Linked DNA regions of Homo sapiens: region 2 is linked to region 1. Evidence: fine-mapped expression QTL. Tissue or cell type: whole blood. Region 1 holds a variant in brackets; the other region holds the start of a gene. All regions are shown on one strand. Distances are between the middles of the regions.

Region 1 (15,725 bases):
GGGATTACAGGCGTGAGCCACCGCACCCAGCCAGCCCTGCATTATTTTTTATAACACAAAAAACAATAGCGTCCTTTTTGAAGGGACTAAAGAGCACTCATGAGTAAAGTCAGAACACCCACTTGTCTTCTCACTGGTCACGTTCTAGGTCTGGCCAAGCTGGGGAGCAGGAGCCCAGGGCCGAAGAACAGGGACTTTTTCTTTTCATTAAGCTAAATTCTGCATGTAAGTACCTGTGAGTGTAGTTTCCCAGTGTTTTCTAATCAGCTCTTCCAAAAGTTCTACCATATTTGTCCAGACGTGATCAAACACTTCTGCTGCCACGGCATCTTTGACACAGTCACGCGGGGAAACAGGAGGAAGTCCGAGTTTGCGCCATTTCCTACCGGGCTGAGCTGGTTTTTGTTCAAGACATTCATCATCACTAAGAATAAAAACCCACTCCAATTACTAAAAGATCAATGCTTAGAGTTAAAATAATTCTATCTACACACATTCACGTATGTACATGTATACATATATTAATAAACATTCTTTGTTAAACAGCATCGTTCTTTTTTAACATATATAATTTTTTTCCATTACACATGAATAAAAACAAGAAACCAACTCCTGGTTTCATTGATCTTTCTTTTTTTTTCTAGTCTCTTCATTTATTTCGGCTCTGAGCTTTGTTATTTCCTTCCTTCTACTAAGTTTGGGCTTAGTTTGTTCTTTTTCTCATTCCTTCAAGTATAAAGTTAGGTTGTTTATTTCAGATATGTCTTTTTTCTCAATGTAGGCATTTATTGCCATAGGCTTCCCTTTTAGAGCTGCTTCTACTGTACCCCATAAGTTTGGTTTTAATATGTTGTGTTTCCATTTTAATTTGTCTCATTATATTTTTTGATTTCCCTTTAGGTTTCTTCTTTGACCTACTGCCTGGTTGTTGAGGAGCAGGTTGTTTAGTTTACACATATTTGTGAGTTTTCTAGTTTTCTTCCTGTTATTGACTTTCAGTTTTGTACCACTGAGATCAGAAAAGATGCTTGATTTCAGTCTTCTCAAATGTGTTAAGACTTGTTTTATCAGTGTTACTTTTTAATGTGCCAATTTTCAATCACGGGGCAAAGTTTTATCATGTAATAGTTGTAGTTTTTGATTAAGAACAAAATACAAGGCTGGGCACAGTGGCTCACGCCTGTAATCCCAGCACTTTGGGAGGCCGAGGCAGAAGGATCACGAGGTCAGGAGATCGACACCATCCTGGCTAACACGGTGAAACCCCGTCTCTACTAAAAAAAAATTCAAAAAATTATCCGGGCGTGGTGGTGGGCGCCTGCAGTTCCAGCTACTCGGGAGGCTGAGGGAGGAGAATGGCGTGAACCCGGGAGGCGGAGTTTGCAGTCAGCCGAGCTCGCACGGCTGCACTCTAGCCTGGGCGACAGAGCGAGACTCCGTCTCAAAAAAAAAAAAAGAACAAAATACGAATTTAGTACAGAGGCAGGAACTCCCCTTAGGCCCTTTTGGGCAGCCAGGGCTGGGGAACCTGGAGCCCCCAGGACCAGGGCTGCGAGGAGCCTTGTCTGCTTTTACAAGGGCACTGAACACCCTCTTCGCTGCTCCCGCACGTGCACCGCTGGCTAGGAATCCAAAAGCTCTGGGGAGTACATTACTCTCAAAAGAACAGAAATCTTTTGGGTGAGTAAAAAATACACAAAACACTTAATGAGCATACGATAACAATAAATGTCAAATAAATTAATATTATTTTATGAGGTCAATGTCAAATAAGATTCTATTTACTCCTCTTTTCTGTCAAAAGCGAAATACTCCTCAATCTTTCCATCCACATGGTAAACCTCTTCTTCCAGGGATGAACGTGCCGTTAGGTCAGCAACCCCTGTGTCATCAGGGCCTGGCAGGGCAGAGGCTGAGAGTGCTGCTGGGACTATTTGAGAGCCAGAAATGCACAACCTATGGGAAAAAAACAGATTCTACATGGGAGTTTATAGAACACCAAGAACGCAATGCTTAAACGATCATGGCGGATCTTTCAATTATCTGTAAAGTACAGAATCCCCCCCTCCCAAAACGGTTGAATATTACATTGGACAAAACTCACGTCCTTAAAAACACTTTAATACAGGCATCATTAAACATTTTAAGGGCTTCTTAAAAGCCTAAATTATTCTATGAGTTTGTACCCTCTTTGGTTGCAGTGAAAGGACTGCATTGTGTCACGGCACACCAAATATGTGTGAATGGCATAGAGTCATCAAAATCTGCTAGTGAACAGAAACGACAGGACAGAGCTTCATTTCTCCTGCTGCCACCGCCTGGAGGCTTATAATCCATCACAGTGAGGCGGTTTCCATCCTGCACCCAGTCCACCTTTCACAGCGCCTTTGGAACAAACATGGAAGGTAACTACCATGTGTGTGCATGTGTGTTCCATATATATATTACACATCTCTCTATATACACACATATACACCTATCATCAATTCAGAATCAAAAGCTTCTTATAAAAATTGTTCTCTGTACCTGCCCTTCATCAGAATCTAAATTTCCAAAATGGGTGGAGCCAAGGCTTATAGATGAGATAAACATGAAAAAGTATAACTAAAATACAGCTAACAATACTTTTTGAGAGTCACTTATCTGAACATACTCTCTGATGTTGCTGCTGTGTCCGCAGGCACTGAGCGGGGGTCTGTGGACTGCGGAGGCAGGAGTGCTGCCCTGGAAATGCTGGACGCCTTTGTCAGTGGGCAGGATCAGCTGTCTTCCTAATACTCTGCGAGGTCAAAGAGAAGCTACTGACATTTTTGATCAGACAAAGGGAAAATGTTTGGAGATTTTAAAAGTAGGAGACAATGATTTTGAAGGCATGTGTATGATAAGATGTGTATGGGAACGTGGGAAGCATCACGCATCACAGAAGTGTGACTTTGAGAGTTTAGGCCAGACTGTTCTTCCACTGACTCAGTCTCAGGCAAGGTTCTCAGGCTAATTTCATTTGTTTGTCTTTCATTTGCAAAACAGGATAATAATGGTTACCTTGCAGGGCTGATGAATGGCTTAGAGATCATATATGACAGACTCAGGTGTCTAAGGCAACACTGGGCACAAAGAAGCCCTCCATACATATTAACTAATACACAGTTAAACACAAACATAACAAGAATACAAATATATAAATATGCACACTTGGCTTATGTACCTGACAATCTTTTCCCACCTTCCCTCCATTTCTATCAATGATGTAAGACAGCAGTGACAAGAATAAGTGTGAGCTCCCGAATTTCTGGTGAGTGATCATCCCCAGAAAAGTGAGTATCCACAACTAGTATCTAGTGGACATATCATACTCTTTAGGGCAGGTGGCTTATTAAGGGTTGAAAAGAAAAAAAAAAACAACCCTAGTTGGTCAAGATTTCTGTAAAAGTTACCTAGTGAATGTAACCAGGAAATCCAGCCACATTTACATGAGTGTTCTGATTCATTCTCCCCAGACAGAATCCACAGGAACTCAGGTAACTTTGATAAACTGTCCCCCAGTACGTTGGCTGAGTGACTGAAAGATAAGCTTGCCTTTGGCCGGGCGCGGTGGCTCATGCCTGTAATCCCAGCACTTTGGGAGGCTGAGGCGGGCGGATCACGAGTTCAGGAGATCAAGACCATCCTGGCTAACACGGTGAAACCCCGTCTCTACTAAAAATAAAAAAAATTAGCCGGGCGTGGTGGCAGGTGCCTGTAGTCCCAGCTACTCGGGAGGCTGAGGCAGGAGGATGGCGTGAACCAAGGAGGCTGAGATTGCAGTGAGCTGAGATCGCGCCACTGCACTCCAGCCTGGGCGACAGAGCAAGACTCCATCTCAAAAAAAAAAAAAAAAAAAAAAAGCAAAAAGAAAAGAAAAGCTTGCCTTCATACCCAATCCATATTCTCCATCTTTGATATGAAAAGTAACACATGCTCCTCCCTACATAAGGAATGGGTGAGATGGGAAGACCCATCTATCCAGCCGTTCAGCAAATCATCTCTGCCCACCCTCGCTGTGTTCTGTGATGAAGACAGACATGTGCTGCTCACACACAGTGAATGTGAAGGTAAGAGGTGGCCTCCACCATTCTTGCATTCGTATATGTGTCATGCCCTTCTCAGGATGGCCTGAATTTGCTTCTCACAAATTAAAAGGCGCTTGAGTACTGGAATGTCTCAGTATTTCCTCAGACGCCGTAAGAGGAAAGTGATCTCTCAGTGAAGGACTGCGCTCTGCATCCATATTCTGACTGGGCAGGCACTTTCACACCAAATGTACTGAATGTATCGAGGCAGGTCAGGGGTGGGTGCTTGGAAAACCCACCCCAGAGAACTTCCACCACCAAGGTCCCACCTCAAATGGAGGGATCTTCTTGTCCACTCCCCGCATTCGGCCAGCAGACTCTGGGTCTGAGGGTTCACTTTCCCTTCAAATAACATTTCCTCCACCTCCCAGAGTAACCGCTGCACTGACTGTGAACTGGCTTCGTCAAATTCCTAAACAGAAATGCACACTTGGTTACAACACTGCAAGTTACAGAACTGCGGGCTTCTGGATCAACGCTACTTATACATTTACTGTCACCCACTATGTAGGAGGGTGCATCACTTGGTAAAAAGATGGTGGCTTTGCAGTCAGACACACCTGTGCTCTAGCTGTTACCTTTCTGAGAAATGCCATCTCATTCTGAGCCTCGGATTCTTTTACTGTTAAATAGAGAAAACTTCTGCCACGGAAGTTATGAGACTCAAGAATTTGCATAGATAGAGGTATAGATGGACGTGTTCATACTGCCACAGACATCAGCGTAGACACACAGACACGTCCACATCTGTATGTCTGCAAACACAGGCAGCTCCTCACAGAGCTGTGCCTGACACACCTAAGCACACCTGCAAAATACAAGATTTTTTTTTCTTCTGGTGATACCACAGAAAAGAAAATTACTTTTGTAGAAAAGGCCATTAATCTCCTTAAATCAATGAACTGGAAAAAAAAATCCTTAGTTATCCTAAGAAGTGTGGTTATTAGGGTGAGGCCTGAGTATTAATGGAAGTTATACGAATTTCCCTGGTAATTCCATTAAACGTTGTACTAAAAGAATCCTAGAATTTGGACAGAGTAAAGCAGTGGTGCTCAGCCTTCTACCAAGGAAGGCGGGCTTGAGGGATGGTGGTGAGTGGGCGTAAGGGAGAGGAAGGAGGCAGCTGCCCCTAAGTAAGGGAGCTGCGTGCGTGAAAGGTCCTCCTAGCAGTGCTGAGCTGAGTCCCTTTCAGACCCCCTCGGTGCACCTGCCCTGCCGGCTCCCCTGAGAATCACAGCTGCACAGCTGCGGACAGAAGCGGATTCCCATGTGCAGTGGGAGTGGGGAACCACTTTTAAAGAAAGCAAAGAGGCTGGGCGCAGTGGCTCATGCCATGGGAGGCCCAGGCAGGCGGATCACAACGTCAGGAGTTCGAAACCAGCCTGGCCAACATGGTGAAACACCGTCTCTACTAAAAATACAAAAATTAACTGGGCATGGCGGTGCACACTTGTAATCCCAGCTACTCGGGAGGCTGAGACAGGAGTATTGCTTGAACCTGGTAGGCGGAGGTTGCAGTGAGCCGACATGGCACCACTGCACCTCAGCTTGAGTGACAGAGCAAGACTCTGTCTTAAAAAAAAAAAAGAGAGAAAAGGCCGGACGCGGTGGCTCACGCCTGTAATCCCAGCACTTTGGGAGGCCGAGACGGGCGGATCACGAGGTCAGGAGATCGAGACCATCCTGGCTAACACGGTGAAACCCCGTCTCTATTAAAAATACAAAAAATTAGCCGGGCGTGGTGGTGGGCGCCTGTGGTCCCAGCTACTCGGGAGGCTGAGGCAGGAGAATGGCGTGAACCCGGGAGGCGGAGCTTGCAGTGAGCCGAGATCGCGCCCCTGCACTCCAGCCTGGGCGACAGAGCGAGACTCCGTCTCAAAAAAAAAAAAAAAAAAAAAAAAGAGACAGAGAGAGAGAGAAAGCAAGCAAGCAAAAAACAACAACAACAACAACAAAACACCCAGCATAAACGAGGTAAAACAGAACACCCAAGGTGCTGCAGCCAGGTGGGCCTTAAAAAGGAGGGCTGTGTCCTGGGATCCACGGAGACCCTTGGAGGGAGGGGGAGGGAGGAGACTGGAGCCAGTGAGCTCCTGAGCAAGCTGGAGCAGTGGAGGCAGAGCTCGCCCAGCCAGAATCCCAGGCTCACACAGACAAAAGCAGTTCAGAGGCAACAGCGCCCCCAG[C/G]GGTAGGGGGTGAAGGTGAAATATCCGACTGGGAATACTGGCGGGGAGTTCTCTAATCACAGTGGCTGCCACAGCTTTTACTTTTCCAGCATTTCTTTCTTATTCAAGTCCTGAATTTCCGGCCATGGATACCATCCAAGAAGTCACAAGGAGCACACACCCGGAGAGCCGGCTGCAGGGTGGAAACAAGAAAACTGCGGGCAGCTAAGACGGGGCCAGAAGGTCACGAGGGAGTTCTGTTTTCCTCCACGGTTCGTGATCTATTATTTTCACATGTAACATGTACATGCTTTTACATGTATGTACATGTATGTATGCAATAGGTCATGCTTTTATAATTGGTAAAAATAATTTTGAATATAAGGAAGCAACTCTTCACTATAAACTGTAATTACAAGATTATCCAAAATATTCTGAGACATACGTCATCTCTCCAGGAATAAACGGAGCCCCTCTCCGTGGATGAGCCGGTGGTAGAGCTCTGTGTGGCCGACCCAGACCAAGAGGTGTGGGCTCCCGTGGGTGTATGGCTTCCGCTGGAGGAAAAGGATGACAAGGATTTGCTGCAGGAATGAACATGAGCAAAGAAATCACATTTGCTGGAAGGGCTTGGATGGCTAAGTGGCTTCACTTTTCTGAGCCTGCTTCCTCTTTCTTTCATTAAATATATTTATTAATTTCACAGTATACTAATTTTGAAATATTTTTACAGTGTGATGTTTACACTAGGTTAAAAATAAAACTGCATCTTACTTTTAGAAATTCATGGCCAGTCACTAACTTCCTTCCCACATTTGTTACGGGCATTTTGTGATTTTGTAATCTGAAGCAAGGTGAATTCTTACCAGGTATATTTATCAATGGCTTTCTGCACATTTCTTGTAAAATGCGTAGGTAAAGAATCTTTGCTCCTCACAGTAAAACCGTGCCTTCTACGTCCTTCTGACAGTCCTCTTCTGGAAATAAAATAAAACATGACGAGTCTCCCTAATGTAATAATATAGTTTTATTCATTAAGACTTTTAAAATTTCTCTTTTATACAAAGTTGCTCCTCTCGTTCTGCCACATCCCTCCAAACCCACCTGTGCATGAGCGCACACACACACACACACACACACACACACACACCCCATCCTGATGAAACTGAGACTTAGGATGTCATCATTTTTCTTTTTCTTAAAATCAAGGTTGCCATTAACCTATATGTACCTTTATGTGAACTGAAGACAACATCAACTTTTTGTGACTCAGCCAGAGAAGGAAAAGTTGCCCCAAACAGTTCACAGTATTTCAGGGATTTCAGGTCCCAGTTGTCCCTTGACCAGGGACAAGGGACTTACTTACAAAACCCAACCACTCCTCCAGTAAAAAAATCATTAATCCCATATTAATTAAGAAACATCAAATTCTTTAGACTCAGAAGCCACACAGACACCTAACTTGCTTTAATCTAGCATTGCTGTTTGTGGGTATACTGAGTTTTCAAGAGTTAGAAGATATTAAAATTTAATGAAGAACTAAAACAGAAGAAATATCTAGATGTTAAATAAACTATTAAGCCTAACTGGTGTAGCACAGTTCCTGTTAATCATTGAAATGTCCTTTCAATGAACCGCTTAAAACATTTACTTCCTCTAGTCAAAATATCTTCCTGATGTTTAATAATCAACAACTTCTGTTCTTCAATAGAAATCTTATTTTCCCTTACAAATAAAACATATATTAACATAAGATATGGTCATGAATCAGGAAAAACTTCAACTTTCAATATTTCTAGTTAGAACACCACTCTAAAATGCATTTTTAAAAAGTTTGCTTTTGCTTTCGATTATAAGGCTACCTAATTGATCTCAGCTCACTGCAACCTCCACCTCCTAGGTTCAAGTAATTCTCCTGCCTCAGCCTCCTGAGTAGCTGGGATTACAGGCGCCTGCCACCACGCCCAGCTAATTTTTGTATTTTTAGTAGAGACAGGGTTTCACCATGTTAGCCAGGCTGGTCTCGAACTCCTAACCTCAAGTGATCTACCCGCTTCGGCCTCCCAAAGTGCTGGGATTACAGGCATGAGCCACCACACCCAGCCAACAAAGAGAATTTTTAAAACAAAGTAATTACCATGTACAGATTGGCGAGAACATCTACCTTCCATAGATACGTCTCATGCAAGAGAGAATAATAGAATTATATGATTGTTTTTATTCTCTTTGTTGCTTAGGTATCTTACGGACAACCAGGTAACTCTGAGGATAAAGATGTTAAAGAAAGGGCCCCAGAGAAAAGAATAAAGGACACGCTTTATGCTGACAAACTGCTTTACCTTTAGCCCTCTTCAGTTGCTTTCAAGCCATTAATTATTTCTTGTTTACATGTGACTCAGTAACTTTTTAGGTAAACATACAAATACTAATGACATAAAATAACAACTAAAAGTTACATCAAATAGATTTGTTTTGAACACTAAGAAAAACATACTGGTATAGGAGTTAATATATGACTGAGAAATAATTTTAAAACTCAGCATGATGAATTAGCTAAAACATTGTTCTTTTGTGATACATATCTACAGAATAATAATGGGGGGTTCAAATTTGCTCTGCCACTGAGGCTTTAAGCAAGTTAACTTTTCCTCTCCTGAATTCAGTGTCCACATCTGTAGATAAAGTATATGAAGTGTCAGTCAGTGCTACATAAATCGGGTTTACCTGCTCACTGCTATTATTATTGTTATGTTATTATTATTACTTGACACAGGGTCTTGCTTTGCTCCACAGGCTAGAGTGCAGTGGCAGGATCACAGCTCACTGTAAGCTCGACCTCCAGGCCTCAAGTTATCCTCCCACCTTCAGCCTCTCTAGTAGCTGGGACTACAGGTGTCTACCACCATGCTTGGCTAACTTTTTAATGTTTTGTAGAGATGGGGTCTCACTATATTGCCCAAGCTGGTCTTGAACTCTTGGGCTCAAGTGATCCTCCTGCCTTGGCCTCCAAAACTGCTGGGACTATAGGCATGAGCCACCGCACTGTCCTCTCACTGCTATTATCATCATCACCTGCTACTCTACGAAGATGCTGTGTTCTTGTTTCTTTGGACCTCCCATAGCATTTTGTATTATATAGATCTTTTCACATTTTAACTTTTTGTTGTGACCTTGACACCTTATTCATCTTTTAAGCTAAGCACCTGAAATAACACTCGTCACACAAAAGATGCCCTCGGTTGAAAGACTCAAACGGCGAAGACGAAATTAGCAACTCAAATGCGGAACTCATTTTCACTACAGAATTACTCTGAATGTTTATGCCTGAAACATAGGATTACATCGTGACCTGACATGAAAATATTCCCCAGATTCAAGACACTATTGGATAACGTTTTACTCGTTAAAAAGTCACAGCTCTTCTTTGGGCAGCTGATATTCCCCCAAATGGTTTTCACCGCCAAACGGAGCATCTGCTCTGCTCAAGACGGTCTATCCTGCTTCTAGCTCCTCCTCCTGCTTTTGTGCAACTTTGAAGCCAAATTCAAAATGGGACGCATGCGAGTTTGTTTCAATGAATAATTTATTCCTCTAGGAAATTCACTCTTTTTCAGGGGAAAGGGTGGAAGCTCTTTTCAAATTAAGGAGAAAATTATTTACAAAACGGAGGAACTCATCTCTCTTCACATCACACCACATCCTTTCCAGGACCAGGCTTCCCACTGTCTTGGACGCAGAGCTGAGCCCAGGAGGTCTTGGGATGCAGGGCAGGGGGAAATGGGAAGTTGGGTAACAGTCACACCAATTATTACGAATTAGGTGCCTTAAAACTCCCCTACTCCATGCCATTTCTCCCTCTTTTTTCCTCTCTGACCTTCCCCTCTGTATCTCCTTTTAAGCAATTTCTTGAGCTTCAGAGTTCAGTGTAATAACATACAAACTTGACCACACAATTCACAAAAAAACGAGGTGAACAGGAATTTAAGTCCGTAACTCAATGATTGCCCAAGAGCACAAAGAAGATAGGGACAGAGTTTCTTCGAGGAACCAGGCCACTGACCTGCCTGTCTCTCCAGTGGCACAAGTTACTAACATCATGAATTAACAGCAGAGCCTACAAAATCCCTTTCTTGTCTTTTTCTTTTTTTTTTTCTCTTTCACATCTTGTTTTGGTTCTTTGGTTTCTCTGTTCTCTAACCAAGGATTGGTTACTGGTCCCTCATGCATAATGTTGAACCTCTTTAATCCCCTATAAACTATGGACTAGTTCTGTATCCTACACAGTCTAAGAAAGTGTACACAACTTACAGGATGCATCCCACAGGTATTTTAAAACTTGAATATGGTGGCATGTCCATGAAGCTTCTAAACATAGACATGCAAGTTCTATACTAGTTCCTGTCCATACTGTTTAAATAGAGCAAGGCTGTTGATTTGGGGACAGGTCTTCGTAGGGTGGACTGAAGTGCAGTCACTAAACTAGACTGCACTCATTTGTTGGCGCATGGAGGTTAAGGGTGAGTTCCAATCTCCATGACTCCATTCCAGCTGTCAGGAAAATCATCATCCAGAGTTACTGTTTTAGGTTGCTTCTTGACAGCCCACAAACCTCTGCCACACTGCTTTGTAGAAATTCTAATGTCAGTGACAGCAGCTTTCAAAATTTTCTATTCCTAGTTGACAGGACTGTCTGACATAAGCACTGTACTCTGAACGGGTTAAAATGCAGGCTGGTTTTCTGGATGGGGGGACACACAGGGGCACTCCAGGGTGGCCATGGGAAGCCGCTCCTCAGCACGGAACACTCACACCGCCCTGACCCAACACCAGCAAGTCCCAGGAGCGACCGCAGTGACGAAGGAGTCCCTTTGGCGGCGAACGCTTCCCCGCGTGAGCCATGCCCGGGGCCGGCCTGACGCTTCCCGAGTGCCTGCAGGGAAGCCCGGGCCAGACGCAGCCGGCCCGCGGGCGGAGAACACCGCGCACATCGCCTGCAGAGCGGCCAGAAGGCGAGCCCTGCTGCCGGATGAGACTCACCCGATTACGATCAGCCCCGGGCCTGTGCTCGCAGCCCCCGCGCCAGGCTCCGCGCTAGGCTCGGGCACCGTCAGGCAGAGGCACCGCGCGCGGGCCCCACGCAGACAGCCGGTCACGCGCCCCCGCGGCCCCGGGGCTGGGGCTCCCCACCCGCCCGCGCCCGCGCCCGCGCCCGCGCCCGCGCCCGCCGCGCGGCTGGCCCAGCTCAGGCGGCCCGGGCGCGCCCGGGGTCCGCGGGGCTCGCACGCCCCTTCCCTCTCCAGATCCTCCGCCCCGCCCGCGCCGGCGCCGCCTCCCCTCCTCCTCCCTGCGCTGCGCCCTCGCCCGCCAGCTAATCCCGGCTGCGCCCGCCCATCCCCGCTCCGGGCCCCGGCCCCGGCCCCGGCCCCGCGCCGACCTCCGGGAAAGCGCGCCTTCCCCGCTCCCTGCCGGGCCGGGTTTCCAACCCAGCGGCCACTCCTCCGCGCACGGCCCGGCCTCCCTACTCCTTCCCGGGTCTCTGGGGCCGGGGGCTGTGCATACTGGTGCTGGCTGCCCTTCTCTCTTCCAAATCGGATTTTAATTCACCAGAAGAAGGCAGAGAACCACAGGACCATCTCGCCTATCCCCGCCCCATCAAAGGGTGCGCACACCAGGCTGGGGTGGGGAGTGGACGAATGAGGTTTAAAAAATGAAGCCCCGGATCTGGTCAATGCGAGAACCATTACTCCATCAACAGGAACGCTAGATCTAAGCATGCATACTAAAGACGTGGACCCTTCCACGCCCGTCCTGCCCTACCGGCTCACACAAGCCGGTGCATCTCCTGCACACCCCGAGCATGCCTGCCGCTTGCGTTACCATGTGCTCGTTTCAGTTTTGGAGGCCCAGGATTATACCAGGAGCAGAGCAGCTGGACGCTCTCCTGTGAGCTGGTGAAACTGCCAAGCCGTCATTTTCACATGCTAAGGGAAGAAGGGGTGAGGTCGCGGAGGTGAACTACATTTTTGAGTCTCAGAGGGTGGGCACTGCACGAGGCATGCCTTTCCCACGACAGGGATTTTAGTAATGACAGTTAGTGCACTGGGTGCCGGTACAACACTCATCCCCGTCCTGCCGTAGCCAGTCTCTTTTGAGAGCTGAGGCCATCTAAGTTTCAACAGGTACAATTTCTCCTGCCAAGTATCCCGTATTTACAGAGGTAAACCATGTATTTCCGAGTTTTTACTAAAAAGCCCAGTTTATTTCTGATGCACCACCCTAGCACGGTGACAAGAAATCACTACCAATAACAAAAACAGTAGTCCAGCCAGGGTGGCTCACGCCTGTAATCCCAGCACTTTGGAAGGCTGAGGTGGGCGGATCACTTGAGATCAGGAGTTCAAGACCAGCCTGGCCAACATGGTGAAACCCCAGTCTCTACTAAAAATACAAAAATTAGCTGGGTGTGGTGGTGCGTGCCTGTAATTCCAGCTACTCAGGAGGCTGAGGCATGAGAATCACTTCAACCTGGGAGGCGGAGATCGCCCCACCCACTCCAGGCTGGGCGACAGAGGGAGACTCTGTCTCAAAAAAACAAACACAAACAAAACAGTAATCCATTGTTGAACTAAGAACACTGGAATCCTCCCCACTTTTATAAAAGTGGTAAGTGGTTATAAATTATAAAATTAATGAGATTTTAAATCCTGATACATGTATATGTGTATATGTGTGATGTGTGTGTATGTGTATACATATCTATCAGGAAAACTATGGTATCTTAAGCCCACACAGACTTGCTGATATTATTTATATTGCCAGGGGTGGGAGGATGGGCATGCCAGGGAAACAAAAGAAAGGAGTCTGGTGTGATGGCTCCCACCTGTAACCGCAGTGTTTTGAGAGGCCAAGATGGGAGGATCACTAGAGCCCAGGAGTTCAAGACCAGCCTGGGCAAGACAGCAAGACTCTTGTCTCAAAAAAAAAAAAAAAAAAAAAAAAAGTAAAAATCGAACACAAAGTCATTTAAGATCCAAACATATGCTAGCTGCTTTTACTTTTATATATATTATTTTACATATATTCTTACATATATTTAACACCCATAGTAGGTAGACACTATTATTACAATTTTGTTGATAAAAATACTGATGTCAGAGACCTTAAGTAACATGTTCGAGGTCACACAGCTAGGATGTATATGTGTGAATGTGTCCCAGATATCTATTACCCCATAACAAACCACCCCAAATGTAGATTAAATCAACAGTCATGTTGTTATGCTCATAATCCACAGAACTCAGGAATTGCGGCAGGTTGAGTGTTTCTTCTGCTCCCCGTGGGGTTGCTCAGTGGCATACAGGTGGAGGGTGGTCTGGTGTGGAGGCTCTAAGAAGGCTTCACTCATGTGTCTACACCATGCAGTCGGGGGTGGCTGGAAGTCTGGGCTCAGTTGAGCCTTCTCTCATGCAGCTTCAACACTTCTCTGAGTGGTCCCTCCAGTGAAGTCGTTGGAATTTCTACGTGGCAGCTTAGGGCTCCAAGAAAGCGAGGCAGAAGCCGTCAGCTCTATTCAAGGTGGCAACTGGCAGTGTCACCTCCACTGTACTCCATAATCAAAGCAGTCCCAGAATGAAAGAGATGGAAAATAGACCCCAGCTCTCAATGGGAAGAACCTACAGCCGTCTTTAATCCGCCATAACCGTCCTCTGGCCACAGGTCATTTACACATGCACGATACACTCAGCTCTTTCAAGATGCTCAGAAGTCTCATCATCTAAAGCATGTCCGCGTACAGATGAGGCTTCTGCTTGGGTATTTCCTTTACATCTGAAGACCTGCGAACTAGAGAGACAAGGCAACAGCCTTCTCCACACCCAACCGACAATGGTGAGACAGAGCCAGGACATCCCCAGTGGGCACCTGTCCAACAAGAGAGGTGGCGGAGCCAGGCAGCAGCCACTGCGGGTTCCAGCAGGCTCCTGCTGCCTTGCCTTGAGGAGGACTCACTTCTGCTTCCTGCCTTCTCCCCAGCCCTTAGCTCTGTCCTCTGGGCTGTTGCTTCTACCGAGACTTCCTCAGGGAAAAGAAATGGCCTAGGTTTGCAACTAAGTAGCCTCTCAGCCTGCTTTCCTCCAGGGAAGGCTGGGGAAGGGGGTCCAAAAGTCTGTGCCTCTTTTAGTTCAAGCCAGTGGCGCTTCCATCACTCTGCCAATACCTTGTGGGTTTCTTTGAATTTTATCAGAGTTCACCCCATCCATTAGTTACAAACCACACTGACCTGAGATGGGCCCTTGGTCCACCTTTGAGACTGCCGGGGGCCAATTCTCTTATGATTTTTTAAAGCCCTATTATCTTGGGGATCTATGAGACACCCCTAAATCTGACGTCTTGTTAAGCCAAACCTTTGATTTCACCTTTACCCCTGCCTAGGATTTGATCTTTGCACAGAGGCCATTTTTCAGTTTTGCCCAGAGAGACTGTGATGGTCAAAGTTTCACAAACCCAGCAAGTCTTGACTTCTATATTTCTTATGACTTCTGTTCAAAACCTGAACAGTTCCTTAATTCATTTGTCTCTTCTCTCAAATTTCAAAACCTAAAGCTATGCTGCTTGCTTAAAGATTAAAGTGATAAAATCTTCACGTTGGATTGGTTTAGACCACCACTGCCCAGTAGAAATATAATGTAAATACATACAATTTTAAATTTTCTAGTATCCACATTTATAAAGTAAAAGAAACAGGTACAATTAATTTTAATGATATATTTTAATCTAATATAAATTATCATTTTAACATGTAATCTGTATAAAAATTGGTAATTAGATATTTTTAATTTTTTTGTACTAAGTTTTGAAATCCAGTGTGTATTTTACACCAATAACATATTTCATGCATCCAACAAAGGTCTAATATCCAGTATCTATAAGGAACTTAAAAATACATTTGCAAGAAAAAAACAACCCATAAACAAGTGGGCAGAGGACATGAACAGACACTTTTCAAAAGAAGACATACATGTGGCCAACAATCACATAAAACAAAGTTCAACATCACTTACCATTAGAGAAATGCAAATCAAAGCCACAATGAGATACCATCTCACATCAGTCAGAATGGCTATTCTTAAAAATACCAGATGCTGGCAAGTTGGATCAGAACTACTTCACTGGCTCTCCTGGATCTCCAACTTGGCCATTCACCTTGAAGGCCTTGTGACTTGTCAGCCTCCATAATCAATGAGCTAAATCCTTGTAATAAATCTCTTTATACAGATATATACAAATATAGATGTAGACATGTATCTCCTATTGCTTCTGTTTCTCTGGAGAACCTAATACAATGTTACCTGTACTTAGTCCATACGATTTTCCATCTTTCATTGATTATTTAAACCCTAATTGAGAATTGAAAAGTACATAACTATTTCTATCTTATTGTTTAAGTGTTTTA
Region 2 (17,404 bases), 82 kb after region 1:
AATGATCCTGACTCTGAGCAGGCCTAGGCTAATGTGTGTGTTTGTGTCTTCGTTTTTAACAAAAACGTTTAAAAAGTTAAAAAAAAAGAAGAAAATTAAAAATAGAAAAAAGCTTATAAAATAAGAATACAAAGAAAATATTTTTGTATAGGTGTACAATGTGCTTGTTTTAAACCAAGCATTATTACACGAGTCAAAAAGTTTTGAAAAATTAAAACTCTTATAAAGTAAAACAGTTATAATAAGTTAATTATTACTGAAGAAAGTAAAATTTTTAAATAGGTTTAGTATAACCTAAGTGTGCAGTGTTCATAAAGTCTGCAGTGGTGCACAGTCATGTCCGAGGCCTCCACATCCACTTCCCTTCTCACTCACAGACTCACCCAGAGCCACTCCCAGTACTGCAAGCTCCACTCGTGGTAAGTGCCCTATGGAAGTGCCATTTGTAACCTTTTGTACCACATTTTCACTTACCTTTTCTATGTTTAGATACACAAGTACTTCCCATTGTGTTACAATTGCCTCCAGTATTCAGTGCAGTCACACGCCGGCTGTCTGGTTTTGCAGGCTGGGCGCCACAGGCTGTACTACCTAGTTCTGTGTAAGCACTCCCTGTGACGTTCCCACAAGGATGAAGTCCCCTCACGATGCATTTCTCAGAACATATCCCCATGATTAAGTGCCACATGACTGTGTTCTATTTCTTTGGGGTAAATAACTAGGATTGGAATGCCTGGGCCATTTGGTGAGGCCATTTGGTTTTACAGGAAACTGCCAGATCCTTTGGGAAAGTGTTGCACCACCAACTTTCCTGACAACATTTGGTACCTATTTTTATTATTATTTTTAATCATTCTGCTGAACATATAGTGATAGCTAATTATGGTTTTCATTTGCATTTCCCTGCCGACTAACGATATTTAACAATTTTCATGTGCTTATTGTTCATTTATCTTCCCTTATATGTTCAAATATTTTGCTCATCTATTAGATTGTTTCCTGTTTATTATTGTGTTGTAGGAATTTTTTATGTATCTGAGTGTCAGTCCTTCGTCAGATTCCTATTTTGTAAATATTTATTCCCAGTGTGTGAGTTGCCTATTTATTTTCTTACTGATGTCTTCTTAATTATGATGAAATCTAGTTTATCATCTTCTCTTTTATTTTTATCATTTCTGTGTCTCCTCTAAGAAATTTTCCTACTCCCATTACTTAGATACTCTCCTCTAAAAAGCTTTATGGTGTTAGCTTCTATGTGAAGGTGTGTGACCTCTCCTAAGTTAATTGTTGTGTATGCATGAAGTAGGAGTCATGGTTTTTTGTGTGTATATCCAGTCAGTCAGATCTTGTTTTTTGTTTTTTTTTTGAGATGGAGTCTCACTCTGTCACCCAGGCTGGAGTGCAGTGGTGCCATCTTGGCTCACTGCAGTCTCCACCTCCTGGGTTCAAGTGATTCTCCTGCCTCAGGCTCCCGAGTAGCTGGGACTACAGGCACGCGCCACCATGCCTGGCTAATTTTTATATTTGTAGTAGAGACAGGGTTTCACCATGTTGGCCAGGCTGGTCTTGAACTCCTGACCTCAGGTAATCCATCCACCTCGGCCTCCCAAAGTGCTGGGATTATAGGGGTGAGCCACCACGCCTGGTCCAGTCAGACCATTTTTTAAAGAGACTTCTTTCCCCCACCGGATTGTTCTGTGCTTTCCTTAGAAACCGAGTAAATGTTTTAAGCGAGGGTCTATTTCTGGGCTGTCTACTCTCTTCCACTGAAATATTTGTTAGTTCTTAGGCCAATACCACATTGTTCGGATTACTTTAGCTTTACAACAAGTCTTGAAGTTCAGTGAGCGAAACCTCCCATCTTGCTCTTCTTCTAGATTGCCTTTTCCGTTGCTATGGTTGATGGAAATTATCCAATATTGTGTATTATTTATTATTAATTATTGCTTCTCACTAGAATGTGAAGCTATAATAGTAGAGGACATAGTTCTTATTCCATACGGTGTTGTCTGTGCCTAGAACAAGACCTGGCACTTTGTTGGCTCTGAAGAAATAAATATATGTTGAATACATAGCCGATATGGTTTGCCTCTGCGTCTCCACCCACACCACACGTTGAATTGTAATTCCCAGTGTTGGAGGTGGGGGCTGGTGGGAGGTGACTGGCTCATGGGGCAGAGTTCTCACAGATGGTTCAGCACCACCCCCTCGGTGCTGTTCTCCCGATAGTGAGTGAGTGAATTCTTATGAGATTCGGTCGTTTAAAAGTGTGTGGTGGTTGGGCGCAGTGGCTCACGCCTGTAACCCCAGCACTTGGGAGGCCAAGGTGGGCAGATCACCTGAGGTCAGGAGTTTGAGACCAGCCTGGCCAACATGGTGTAACCGTGTCTCTACTAAATACAAAAATTAGCTGGGTGTGGTGGTGGGTGCCTGTAATCCCAGCTACTGGGAAGGCCGAGGCAGGAGAATCGCTTGAACTAGGGAAGCGGAGGCTGCAGTGAGCCGAGATCCCACCACATGCACTCCAGCCTGGGTGACAAAGTGAGACTTCGCCCCCACTCCCCCCAAAATAAATAATAAAAAAATAAAAGTGTGTGGCACCTTCCCCTTCTCTCTTCTTCCTGCTCCGGCTATGTGAAGGTGCCAGCTCTGGCTTTGCCTTCTGTGGTGGGTGAAAGCTCCTTGAGGCTCCTCCAGAAGCAGAGGCTGCTATGCTGCCTGCACCACTTGCAGAACCATCAGCCAATTGAACCTCTTTCTTTATAAATGACCAGTCTCAGGTATTTCTGTAGAGCAATGTGAGAATGCACTCATACAATAGCTTTCCATGGGCATTTAGTCAGCTCAGGAAAGCCACTCAACTCCATACATTGTCACACTTTATTTTGGTGGGATGTGTACCCAGTGTGATACTCTGTGGTGTGATCAACAACCAAATTTCAGATATTTTAAAAAATCAAATACACCCACAAGGTATGGAGATGAAGCAGTGGTAATGATATCTAAATAGATATTCCACAAGATCTAAAAGTCATGACATGAAAATTATTCCAGGTAAGTGTCAGGTAATAAAATCACCTTAGGTGACTAATCCTAGGAAAACAGAACTAATGTGAGTATATAGAATTGTTCTAATATACTTAAAAATAGCGATTTTACTAATATTCTAATTTAGTTCTCAGAAACAGAAAAAACAACAAAAAAAACTGGCTTCCATAAACTAATATTCCCATCTCATGGCCTTTACAACTCTGGCACTAATCATTGTAAAGCTGTGCACATTCTTTATATCCACAGGCCATGAGGAATGCCACAGCTAGGCCAGCAAGGATGCATTTGCTGACTTGCCCAGGCACGTGAAGGATGCAGGGCTGGCAATGATACCTCTCAAATGCTGGGGACCAGCTCCCCACCTGCCCCCTCTCTGAGAGTGTCCCAAACCTCTCTTCCAGTTCCTTCAGAACTTCCTATCTCTATTTACCAACTCATAGGTAAGGTCCCTACAATACATTCTCCTTGCTTAGGTGAGATGTACCCCTCTGGTAGGGCTCCTGCTATAGGTCAGAATTGCTGAGAAGGACTAATCCATTACAAAGCATATCCCTGAATGACTTAAGGACTTGCCCCATCTGAAGACATTTCATCAGTGGGCAAAACTCACCAAATGCTAGGCAGGAGGAGTGAAAGAGGAACAAACTTGGAGAGACTCCTATGAAATTTCAGAATTGCAACCATGCACACAAAAATCCTAAAACCTTCATTTCCAAAGAAAAGAGATCTTGATTAATAAAAAACTTTTCATCAGTAACATGAACCACTGGAAAACAATAGAGATAAGCTTTCCAAACATTTAGAGAAAATTATTTTGAATTTAAAATTTCATATCCAGGCAAAGCATAGTGGCTCATCCCCACAATCCCGGCACTTTAGAAGGTGTAGGCAGAAGGAGATCAGGAGCTCAACACCAGCCTGGGCAACATAGTGAGACCCCGTATCTACAAAAATATTTTAGAAAGTAGCCAAGTGTGGTGGCACAAGCCTGTAGTTCCAGCTACTTGGGAGGCTGAGGCAGGAGGATCGCTTGAGCCCAGGAGGTTAAGGCTGCAATGAATCATGATCACACCACTGCACTCCAGCCTGGGCAACAGAGCAAGACCTTACCTCTAAAAAACAAGAAAATTACCTTTGACCAGGCCAAGAAAATTACCTGTGGCTCATGCCTGTAATCCCATCACTTTAGGAAGCTGAGGCTGGAGGATCCCTTGAGCCTAGGAGTTTGGGACCAGCCTGGGCAACACAGGGAAACCTCATCTCCACCAAAATTTTTTTTTAAATTAGCTGGCCATAGTGGTTCACACCTGTGGTCCCAGCTACTCGTGACACTGAGGTGTGAGAATTGCTTGAGCCAGGGAGGTCAAGGCTGCAGTGAGCCACGATCATGCCACTGTACTTCAGCCTGGGCAACACAGCGAGACCTTGTCTCTAAATCGATAAATGAAATAAAATGAAATAAAATAAAATAAAATAAGATAGGGAAATTTCACATCCATCTGAATAACTAAATAAAAAGGTATAAGTATTTTGAGATATGCAAAAATTCAGTAAGTTTATAGCCATACGATCTGTATGAAAAGGTTATTCTAGGACATGCTTCAGTAAAACAAGCAAAAATGCAGTTAAAGGATGAAATGAGAGTGAAGAAAACGTTGCTGTTGAATGAGATCTAGCAGAAATAAAGAAAATGAAAAAAAATTAAAAAGAGACTCACTCAGCCTTAGAATTTTGGAAATATTTTGTGAGGGCACATGGAATTCACATTCTTTGTCCAAGTGAGAGACAATATTGCCTGATGGTTAGGACATGGGGTCTGGAGGCAGACTACCTGGAGTTAACCACTATCCATAGTTTGATTTGTAAACTTTGCAACCTTTGTAGTAGGTTCATACACAGGCACGCCCATATGAAGACACATACCAGCACGTAATCATCTGTAAACCTGGGAATCAACTTGCTGAAGCCAACTCCATTTTTACCCGAGTACCCCACAATTGCCGATACCAGTTTCTGATCTTCCCATACACCTTAACAACTTTCCACTTCTCCACTTCTTCCATTATCCTTCATTAGGTGAAAGAAAGCCATTTACTTACTCCTAGGCATACCTGAATGTTCTCTCCTATCTAAGACATTGTCATACAATGCCAGCTCCTGTCTCCCCTCCAGCCAATAAAACTAACAAAAGGGGATACGCTCTTTTAACCTCTTGGAGTTTTGTTTCTTTAAGGCAAAGATGTGATTTGCTAAAAAGACTGTTGCAAAATGATTTCCATAGCTTCCCTAATGTGTTTTTTCCAGGTACAGAATGCTACAGAGAAAAAAATTAAATACTGCATAAATACATTATCACATTAACTAGATATTGGTGCTATTACTTGTGTTCTGAGTTATACCCTTCTCCCATGCCCATATCATATCCCTTTTCTTCCACTTTCCTTCCTGAATAATTCTGACTAGATTTCAAGCACCAGATCAAAGAAAGACCAAAGAAGGCTAAAACCACATGCATTCTGCTAGCAAACTCTACTCAGCAAGAGAGACCCTGCCCAGTAAGAACGTGAAATGAACACCTTCACTTACTTGGATGACTGCTAGCCTTTCCTTTTTTCTTTAGTCCAAATCCAGACATTTCATCAGGGAAGTGTGTGGCAAATAGACGGCACTCTCGAAAGTGAAAGTAAAGCTTGAAAAAAAATGCTTTTATGTTTGGTGCATTCCAAGAAGGGCAAAGGGAGAAAACAAAAACAATCTCTGACAACCTCAGAGAGGCGTTTCAAACCGCCTCTGAAAAACACCTAGTTTTTATTTTATTTTAACTTTTTTTAAGCTGAGATCCTTGGATTTCATTGAAAGGGTCACAGATTTAGCAACAGCTAAAGTTGAAAGTGGGGACCTCACCATTTGATGTGGGCGGGTCTGGACCTCTGCAAGTTAAGGAATAACAGTGAATCCCTCAATTTTCTGCTAGACTCATGCGAAGCTGTCAGAATTGAGTAGTGTATGGTCACAGGGACAGAAAAAAAAATCCCTAATCAAAGCTGAAGTACTTTCCCTTCTTTCGTCTGGCTTTTATCTCTTTGCAACACTGTAAAATAACACCGGCAGAAATTAACCTCTTGATCCAGGAAGAAACTGAGTTTCACAGCAGAGAAAGAGCCAAACATGGCAAAGCTGAGAGCCAGTCCCACTCCTGCTGATCCACTTTTCCACGGTCAGACGCGTTAGGGAACAGATCAGTATGCCCAGAAAAGTTCAGATTAACTAAGAATTTCGTTCTTAATTTGCTTTAATGACTCCAACTAGTTAAGTAAATGTACTTGTTAAGAAATGAACTCACTTTTTTTCATTACAGATGTGCTATGATCTATTATAACTATATTGTTATATAGTGAAATATCACAATTGGAAGGAACTATAGACCACCTAATCTAACTCCCTTGTTTGAGAAATTAGGAAAACGAAACCTAGGGAGGTGAGTGGTTTGCCTAAGAACATGCCACAAGCCACCATATGCTTCAATCACACAAGTCATAAAACAACTGGACGGCTGGGACATGGCATTAGCTTGAACTCATTGCAGAGCTGATGGCAAGAAACAAGCGTGCATCATGGTGCAAAGTGCCCTCTTGTGGGCTCCAGCTTCAGCTAGACCGCTTTATAGTTACTGGGCTCAGGGCTACATGTCTCTGATTTTCATTTGTGACATCTGTAACATAACACCATAAGCAAACAGATGTCCTGAGTACGTGACTGTCCCTCACATCTATCCATTGGGATGTCCAGGAAAACTTCACTAATATTCAAAAGATTTCTTCTCTGTGAGCGCCTTGAAGGCAGGGTGAGGTTTATTCTTTGCATTATAGCTCCCCAGCAACCCTCTGAGGTAGACTGTTTCTTTGGCCTTCAATGAAAGAGACTCGTCCTCAGAATTCAAACCCTTGTGTGGCCTTCTCCCACGCTGACTCTAGGCTTGGCCATTTGACTAGCTTTGACCAGTGGGATATTAGCAAGCATGCAACAAGGTCTCATTGCCAAACACGATTACCCAGGCTTGAGAAGCAAGCAAATAAATGATTGTTGTTTTAAATTTAAAAAAATTGGAATGGTGTCATATGCATTATTAGCGAAATAAAACACATCATCTCAACAATCCTTCATACCTATCCCTTATGCCTTATGACTCCTTATACAGATTAAATTTCCCACGACTTTGGTTGACTAATGAATGGCTCTCGATAAATAAATTTTATTGATGGTCTCCTGATGCAGTAGTTTGGGCTTAATACCAGTTCATATTCAGATATTATTAGTCCTTAATTCTTGCTAGTTTCTAAATACAACACAGATTGTTTTCTCTCTACTGTACATTTCTTAACTATGTGCATTAACTTATTTAGCTATGATGGTGATTGGAGCAATAGTGAAAAACCTCATTTTTCCCCTTTTTAAAAGAATTAAGGCTGGGAGCAGTGGATCATGCCTGTAATCCCAACACTTTAGGAGATTGCTTGAGCCTAGGAGTTCAAGACCAACCTGGGCAACGTGGTAAAACTCCATCTCTACAAAAATTACAAAAATTAGCTGGGCATGTTGGTGCATGCCTATAGTCTCAGCTACTTGGGAGGCTGAGGTGGGAGGATCACTTGAGTCCAGGCAAATTCAAGTTTGCATTGAGTCATGAGTGCGCCACTGCACTCCAGCCTGGGTAACAGAGGGAGACCCTGTCTCAAAAAAAGAGAGAGAGAGAATTAAAAAAAAATGTATGCCCATAAATGTAAAATAACAAATTTAGTAAACACTGATATTTCACAGCATTACAGATCAGCCAATCTCAGAATAATGGGAAGCTGTATATTCCCAGCAAAACAGAGATCTACAGAATTCTAGAAGCCAAAGTCCCTTAAATTTATTCACATTCTAAAAACTCTAAGTTCCCTTCTTCCATTTGAGGGGCCTCTTTAATGAGAGTTTAGTAAGATAATATACACAAAATTTCTGGAAGAATCACTTGACAAAACACAGCAAGTTACAGAGACCGGAGTGACAAGCCAGATATAATTAGCAAATTACCACTCACATGCTGAACTACACAGACACTGTTCTTCTCTGCCCGTTCCTAATAACAATTCTTAATAAAACAGCCGTTTTTATTTTTTTTAATCTTTTTTTTCCTGAGACAGAGTCTTGCTCTGTCACCCAGGCTGTAATTCAGTGGCGCGATCTCAGCTCACTGCAAGCTCCGCCTACCGGGTTCAAGTAATTCTCCTGCCTCAGCCTCCAGAGTAGCTAGCTGGGACTACAGGCACGTGCCACGACGCCCGGCTAATTTTTTGTATTTTTGGTAGAGACGAGGTTTCACCGTGTTAGCCAGGATGGTCTCGATCTCCTTACCTCGTGATCCACCCACCTTGGCCTCCCAAAGTGCTGTGATTACAGGCGTGAGCCACTGCGCCCGGCCAATTACAACCATTTTACCTATAGACAAAGATAGTGTATAGTCTGTAGGCAGTCTAGTCAATTCATTATAAGATTTATAAGGGAAAGTTTATCATTTTCATTATCATCATTATCAGCACCTACAATACTGAGGCTTTACGGAACCATCTTTACAATCTCCCGAATGAATGAATTTAGACATGAGGATTGTGTCACCGCAGTTTCTAACCACAAATATAGAGAATTGAAATTGTGGGGCAAACAGAAGACTCTCCTCTCAATGCATGTATGTGAAAAGGCAGATTAGTACTGAACAATACAATAATTACACTCTGTGAGGGCCAAATATAGAGAGAACTAATTGCTCAGTAATACTTAACATTTGTGCCAGCAATGAATATCCAATTATGAGTGAGCTGTTGGGTATTTGAGGCAATATCATGCATAGGTTTAATTTAAACGGGCTCTTAGAGTCTCAGAAGTAAACCTTTATTCATGGTGTTAAAGTACATTAAAATGGAGACCAGGCCAGAAGAATCCATGAACATACCAAACCAGCAAGGGCTCATAAGCGACCTCGACCTTGCTTGATCTGCAAACATAAGTGACATACGCAAACATAATAACTTGAGCACTATATCTTGTAAATGCCTATATTAAAGAAAACGTAAACACAACCAATCAGAAGCAGCCAACAAACTTATATAACTAAGGACTTTCCAATGAGATAGACCAAATAAGGTAGCTGTATAACTGTAAACAGTCAAGCGCTGTCTTTGCTCTACTTCTGTCTCTGTCCTGAAAAAGCCTTCTCTTGTGTTCCCTTGGTGGAGCTCCCCAACCACTTCTGGTTCATGAATCATTGCTGGTTCAGAAGCACTGTAAAACTGTATTGTGCCTCAGTTTACTTTTTTATTTGTATAGATTTATGGGAGTACTAGTGCCATTTTGTTCCATGCGTAGATTGCATAGTGATGGAGTCAGGGTCTTTAGGGTATTCATCACCCAAATAACATATATTGTGCCATTAGTATCAGTTTACTTTTTAAGAATAGGAACAAGGAGATTGGACCAACCAATGTTCTCTGGGTTGGCAGGAAGCCAAAGTAAGGCTAGACCTTTTCATCATTCAAACTTCTCATGGGTATGTAATGCGATGAATATATTATGAACCTAAACAAATGGTTAAATTCCCTGAGAGCACCAGATAGACAGTCATTGTGAACTGCACTCAACTGGTCCCTTCACAGCCCCCATTCAGAAAGGACATGGTTCTGATCTGTATTGGCTGAAATTCTAGGAAGCATTTCTTTTCTTTCTGAATCCTTTCTCTAAAGTGAAGATACAGTTCCTCTTACCAGTGTCACTTCTATTTCTGCTCACTGAGCTTTCGCTAGTTTGAACTAGGCTCAACCAAAGACCCCAGCAACAACTTTAAGAGAGAAAATAACAAATGTCCCTCTCCCTACTCTCGCTCATGTCCACTGAGCAGTATTGAAGTTGAATTTCCCCTCTGAAAAAGAAACCAATGTTTGCCACAGAGAGCTTCTGGTTTAATCTAAACTTTTTTTTTTTTTTTTTTTTTTTTTTTGAGGTGGAGTCTCACTCTGTCTCTCAGGCTGGAGTGCACTGGCACGATCTCAGCTCACTGCAACCTCTGCCTTCCCGGTTCAAACAATTCCTGCCTCAGCCTCCTGAGTAGCTGGCACTACAGGTCCCTGCCACCACACCTGGCCAATTTTTGTATTTTTAGTAGAAACGGGGTTTCACCATGTTAGCCAAGGTGGTCTCGATCTCCTGATCTTGTGATCCACTCACCTCGGCCTCTCAAAGTGCTGGGATTACAGGCGTGAGCCACCGCGCCCAGCCTAACCTAAACTTTTATTTATTTATTGTATTTTTTGTAATTTTACAAGGTAGTTGAAAGTGATACTTTTTTTTTAATGTCATGAGATATGCACTGTTTTATTCCTTCATTTTAAGCCACTCTATCGAGGTATGATCGATATACAAAAAGCTGTGAATATTTAATATATATAACTTGATGAGCTTGAAGACAAGTATACTTCTGTGAAACCATCACCACAATCCATACCATAAACATATCCATCACTTCCAAAAGTTTCCCTTTATTCTATTCATTTATTATTATTTTTGTGATATATCACAACATGAAATTACCTTTTTGGCAAATTTTTAAATATATAATACAGCATTGTTAACTATAGGCACTAAACTGTACAGTAGATCTCTAGGGCTTACTCATATTGTATAAGCTGGACTTGGTGCCCTTTGACTAATACCTCTCTGTTTATGCCTCCTCCCAGCCCCTGACAGCCACCATGTCACTCCCTCCTTCTATGAGTTTGACTATTCCAGATTCATCATATAAATGATATCATGTAGCATCCTTCTGTCCTTCTGCATCTGGCTTATTTCACTCAGCGTAACATTCTCTGGGTTCATCCATGTCGTCACAAATGGCAGAACTTCCTTTTGTAAGGTAGAATAATATTCCATTGTATGTGTATGCCATATTTTCTTTATCCATTCATCCATCAATGGGCATATAGGTTGCTTCCATGTTTTAGCTATTGTGAAGGCAATAGCATTGAAAAGAATAAAATACTTAAGAAAAAACTTAAAGAAGTGAAAGACTTGAACACTGAAAACTATAAAACATTGATGGAAGACATTAAAACAGACACAAGTAAATGTAAAGACATCCTGTGTTCATGGATTAGAAGAATTAATATTATTAAAATGTCCATACTACTCAAAGTGGCCTACACATTCAAACATAATCTCTATCAAAATCTCAATGGCATTTTTATAGAAATAGAAAATTTTCCTAAAATGTATTTGAAACCACAAAAGACCCCAAATAGCCAAAGCAATCTTGAGCAAGAACAAAGCTGAAGGCATAAAATGTCCTGATTTCAAAGTATGTGACAAGGCTACAGTAATCGAGACAGTATGGTACTGGCTTAAAAACAGACTAATGGAACAGACTAGAGAGCCCATAAATAAACCCATGCATAGATGGTCAAGTTCTTTGACAGGGCTGCCAAGAACACACAACAGAGGACAGGATAGTCTCTCCAGTAAATGGTGTTGGAAAGCTCAGTATCCATATGCAAAAGAATAAAATTGAACCCTGTCTTACACCATACACAAAAAATCCACTCAAATTAGTTTAAATACCTAAACATGAGATGTGAAACTGTAAAACTCTTAGAAGAAACACAGAGGAAAAAGCTTCTTGACATTGGCCTTGGCCAGTGATTTTTTTGGATATGACACCAAAAACCCACGCAACACAAGCAAAAATAGAAAAGTGGTAACATCTTGTTGTTTCTTATAAATCTATGAAATGGATTTAGGTGAATGGGGTCTCTCCTTTATTAACAATGTTATGACACGGCTGTTCAGTCCCTAGGCCCTGAATTCAATATTTATTTATTAAAATCAAAAGTAAAATTATAGATACAACTTCACTATCATCCTCCATTTAAAATATCCTAATTAAATCCACTAGGCTTCTAATAAATGGAAACACAAATGTCTGACAAAACTTCTAAGTGATCACAGAAGGAAGTCTGAAGTATCAAAAGCAAGCCATAACTTACCATAATCCGATTGAATTGGTTATTGGAGAGTTTATGATCATGCAAATTGACCTCCATTTTATAATGCAAATTTTAAATCAACAGGAGAAATTAAAAGAAAGCCCAGAGTTGGAAGGGATGCTGTTGCTTTTGAACATGCCTCTTGCTTTTCACCTAAGAGTAACCTTTATCTGTATCATGGGATGATCTTATAATAAGAATATGAGAGCTGGTCCCTAAAAAGTAGGAAGTAAAAGTGGAAAGAACTGGGGAGAGGGAAGCCTTACTATCATAAATATTTGTTGATAAAATAGGTAAATCCAAAACTCAAAAAGAAACCTCTAATATAGTTTACAGCATGTATAGAATGCCTAGTCTTATTCTTTATCTAGAAATAGGACTGTTTAAGAGGTGAGTGTATACTTTAAAGTCATCAAAAAAAAGTAGCATTTCTTTTTCTTTAAATTAGCTGTTTATGTCATTTACTTGATTTTTATATTTTTATTATGGATTTGTAAGAGGTTTTATGGACATTACCGAAATTAGCTTTGGTCTAAGTGTGTTGCTAATTTTGCTTGATCTATTGTTTGCTTTTGGTTTTTCAAAGTGATAGTCTTAACTAGTCAAAACTTCCTCAAAGGATTGACATCAGCAAAATGGCAGACTAGGAAGTTTCAATTCCTCATTTCCCCATGGAACTATCATAAAATGACCAGAAAATTGCTGAACAAATCTTAGAGTAGCTCTGGAAAACAAAGGTCTACAACAACCACGTAAATACCTAATAAAAAATTCACCTTAAAAATGTAGGAAATTGTATGGCATTTTTCGTTACCCCTGCCCCACTCCGTCCTTGGCTCAGCATGGTCATGTTCTAGAGGAGGCAGCAGCTCAGCTTCTGGTTATCTCTTTTTGCCTCTCTGCAAAAGCTGAGAGAGGTGGCTGTTTATTCAAGTATTTAAGTGCCAACAAAAAATCATAGGGTACACAAAGAAGCAGTAAAACATGGTCCAATCAAAGGAAAATGTAAATCTCCAGATAATATCCCTAGAAAGCATGTATATTGGACCTACTAGACAAAGACTTTAAAATAGCTGTCTTGAATATGCTCAAAGACCTAAAGAAAAACACAAAGAACCAAAGAAAATGAGGACTACAATGAACGGACAAAATAAGAATGTCAGCAGAGACCACAGCAGTGGCCCATGCCTATAATCCCAGCACTTTGGGAGGCCGAGGTGGGCTGATCACTTGAGGTCAGGACTTTGATACCAGCCTGGCCAAAATGGTGAAACCCTGTCTCTACTAAAAATACAAAAATTAGCTGGGCATAGTGGCACGCACCTGTAATCCCAGCTACTTGGGAGGCTGAGGTGGGAGAATCACTTGAACCTGGGAGGCAGAGGTTGCAGCGAGCCGAGATCGCACCGCTACACTCCAGCCTGGGTGACAGAGCAAAACTCTGTCTCAAAAAAAAAAAAAAGTCAGCAGAGAAGTTGAAATTATATATATATATATATTTTTATATATATATATATATTATGCAGCTGAAAAATACAACTGAATTGAAAAATTTACTAGAGGGATTTCAACTGCAGATTTCAGAAAGCAGAAGAAAGAATCAGTAAATTTAAAGGCAAGACAATTAAAATTATTGAGTCTGAGGAGCAAAACAGGAAAGAAAAAAAAGAATAAACAAAAGGGAATAGAGTCTCATGGCCTTATGAAACACTGGCAAGCAGGCCACTATAGGCATTAGGGGAGTTTCAGAAAAAGAAGAGACACAGAACGGGGCAAGGAGGTGGTGTGAAGAAGTATGGTCCCAAATTTCACAGATGTGATGAAATACACGAGTCTAAAAATCCAAGAAGCCCAATGAACTTTAGGTAAGATGAACCTAAAGAGACTCACACTGAGACACATTATAATCAAAATAAAAGTCTAAGACACACATAATCTTGAAAGCGGCAAGAGAGAAGTTACTCACAACATACAAAAGATCCTCAGTAAAATTATTGGTGGATTTGTTAGTAAAAACCTTTGAGGCCAGAATGCAGTGAGGTGATATATTTAAAGTGCTGAAAGAAAAAAAAAAATCTGTCAATCATGAATTCTATATCTGGCAAAACTGTCTTTCAAAAATGAAGGAGAAATTAAGACATTCCCAGATAAGGAAAAGTGGAGGGAGTTCATTATCACTAGATCTGCCCTACAAGACATGCTAAAGACTAGGGATCCTTTAGATTAAAATAAAATCATTCTAGATGGTAATTCAAAGCCATATAAAGACATAAAGATCTTCAGTAAGCTTAGGCACATGGTTAAAAAAGAAACGTTTTATTATAATTTTGGTTTGTAACTTCACTTTTTTCTTTTCTGGAGAATTTAAAAGATAAATGCATAAAAATAATTATAAATCTATGTTAGTTGAGTACATGTTGTATAAAGACGTACTCTGGACATAAATAGCATAAAGTCACAGGAGGTGGAGATATTTATAAGTCCACTTGTGTGCAATTAAAGTTAAATTGGTATCAATTCAAATTAAATTGGTATGCCTTTAAAATGTTGCATGCAATTCCCACGATAACCACAAAGAAACTGCTGATAATATAGCTAACCAGATAATTCTAACCAGAATAATTCTAACCAGAAAGGAAAAAGAGGCATTAAAACGGATTCTATTTTTTAAAAATGTATTATAAGAGTACTGTGAAGAACCATATGCCAACAAATTGGATAATGTCAGTGAAATGGCCAAATCCTTAGAAACACACAACCTACCAAGACCGAAACATGAAGCCATAGAAAATCTGAATAGACCTATAACTAGTAAGGAGTTTGAATCAGTAACCAAAGCATTCCAACAACAAGATCTCTGAACTAGATGGCTTACTGATGAATTCTACCACACGTTTGAAAAATTAGCACCAACCTTTGTCAAACCTTTCCAAAAAATGGGAGACAAAGGAACACTTCTAACTTATTTGATGAGGCCAGCATCACCCTACTACCAAAGCCAAAGTCACCACAAGAAAAGAAAATTATAGGCCAGTATCCCTTATAAATACCGATATAAATATCTTTAACAAAATGCTAGCAACATATTTAACAGACTATACATCATGACCAAGTGGGATTTATTCCCGGAATGCCTTGATGGTTCAACAAACAAAGATTAATCGAGGTAATATTCCACATTGACAGAATGAGAAAGAAAGCCACATGATCGGCCCAGCACGGTGGCTCACGCCTGTAATCCCAGCATTTTGAGAGGCCAACTCGGGTGGATCACCTGAGGTCAGGTGTTTGAGACCAGCCTGGCCAACATGGTGAAACCCCGTTTCTACTAAAAATACAAAAATTAGCCTGGTGTGTTGGTGGGTGCCTGTAGTCCCAGCTACTTGGGAGGCTGAGGCAGGAGAATTGCTTGAACCCGGGAGGTGGAGGTTGCAGTGAGCTGAGATCGTGCCACTGCACTCCAGCCTGGGCAACAGAGCAAGACTCTGCCTCAAAAAAAATGCTACCAATAATAATAATAATAAATAAAAACAAAAACACATGATCATCTCATATGATGCAGAAAAAGCATTTGCTCCTGTTAAAAACCCTTTTATGATACAAATACTCAACTCTTTTATATGATTTAAAGATTGTTTTGATGACAGGGCAAAAAACAATGACTCCCAGATAGGTGAAAAGCAGAATTATTTGTTACTTACAGTTCCAAATAGAGAAGGCTGCCAGGCAGGGCCACGCAGGGGATTGAGCCTAGGCCGGGTTAACGGCAACCTGGAGATGTGGGAAGCAGTGTGCGTATGGCAAGCTGGGTGGAGCTGGCTAGATTCTGTGGGTTTCCTGTGGGTTGGCTATTTGAATACTTTCAGAGGGCTCTGGGGGATAGGGGCTGTCCCTTGTGCTATGGTAACTGGCCCTAAGGTGATTCGGGTGGCTGTGTAGTGGCCTGCAGCGTGAGAGCCCTGTAAGGGAAGTGGTTCAGTTGTGGACTTAATCACCTCCTCGATGAGGGGAGCTGACCAGCCTCTGACCAGCTTCTCACAACTGGGTCAGGACAGATTTTTAAAAAGCTGTATTACAGTTGACTCCTTGATGCCTTGATCTCAGTTTTAAGCCTAGTTTTTTTTTGGTGGGTGTGTTGGGGGAGGTACTTGAGTAGCCCAAATAATAGAGATTTCCAGAGAGTAGGGCATAAGTTGTCTTAGACAGCATAGAAAACAACTTATTATGAGAGTCAAAAAGAGAAAAACAGGGAAAAGTATATAGAGCCCCTGAAGGCTGGCTCATAACCAAGTTCCCTATTCATAATTGTCAAGAACGCAGACCTGAAATCCCCAGGGTCTCTAACAATATCTTGGTGGAGTTGTAACATATGTTCAAAGTATGAGTTATATTTTTATGACCGTAACACCTTGGTGTATTTCTTGGGTCAAGATGGCAGGTCTAGCAGTTATGTTGGGGGAAAATATGAATTAATCACTTAGTAAGAGACAAGTAAAGACTAATGGCATTTGTAACCAAAGGAAAGGAGTAGCTGTGGTGGTCACGGTCAAACACGCAGGGCAGGAGGTTGTGGTGGATGGTGGGAGGTGGATAGCTGGAGGTGGATGGCGGGAGGTGGATATCTGGGTGTGGATGGCTGGAGGTGGGTGGCTGGAGGTGGATGACTGAAGGTGAATGACTGAAGGTGGATGGCTGGAGGTGGATGGCGGGAGGTGGATAGCTGGAGGTGGGTGGTTGGGGGTGGATGACTGAAGGTGGATGACTGAAGGTGGATAGCGGGAGGTGGATGGCGGGAGGTGGGTGGTGGGAGGTGGGTGGCGGGAGGTGGGTGGCTGGAGGTGGATGGCGGGAGGTGGGTGGCTGGAGGTGGATGGCGGGAGGTGGGTGGCGGGAGGTGGGTGGCGGGAGGTGGATGGCTGGGGGTGGATGGCGGGAGGTGGATGGCGGGAGGTGGATGGCGGGAGGTGGATGGCTGGGGGTGGATGGCGGGAGGTGGATGGCTGGGGGTGGATGGCTGGGGGTGGATGGCGGGAGGTGGATGGCTGGGGGTGGATGGCTGGGGGTGGATGGCGGGAGGTGGGAGGTGGATGGCGGGAGGTGGATGGCGGGAGGTGGATGGCTGGGGGTGGATGGCGGGGGGTGGATGGCGGGGGGTGGATGGCGGGAGGTGGATGGCGGGAGGTGGATGGCTGGGGGTGGATGGCTGGGAGTGGATGGCGGGAGGTGGATGGCTGGGGGTGGATGGCTGGGGGTGGATGGCGGGAGGTGGATGGCTGGGGGTG

Evidence for each region. PIP is the estimated chance that this variant, and not a neighbour inherited with it, causes the effect.
Region 2: it holds the start of TLR3, and the variant in region 1 is fine-mapped to the expression of TLR3 in whole blood (TOPMed, PIP above 0.99).

Annotation. Positions count from the first base shown.
Region 1 is chr4:186,140,699-186,156,423 of GRCh38, reverse strand. FAM149A (family with sequence similarity 149 member A) reads right to left here. Exons shown (of 14, transcript NM_001395294.1): 2 at 7,141-7,251; 3 at 6,720-6,858; 4 at 4,379-4,521; 5 at 2,654-2,779; 6 at 1,786-1,956; 7 at 234-424. Among named protein-coding and RNA genes, the nearest start is that of FLJ38576, 43 kb to the left of the region's middle. RefSeq lists a silencer at 6,291-6,486 and enhancers at 6,505-7,704, 11,671-12,171, 12,172-12,672. The variant C/G (reference allele first, on the strand shown) is at 6,296.
Region 2 is chr4:186,057,482-186,074,885 of GRCh38, reverse strand. It overlaps TLR3 (toll like receptor 3), which reads right to left and starts at 5,730. Exons shown (of 5, transcript NM_003265.3): 1 at 5,638-5,730.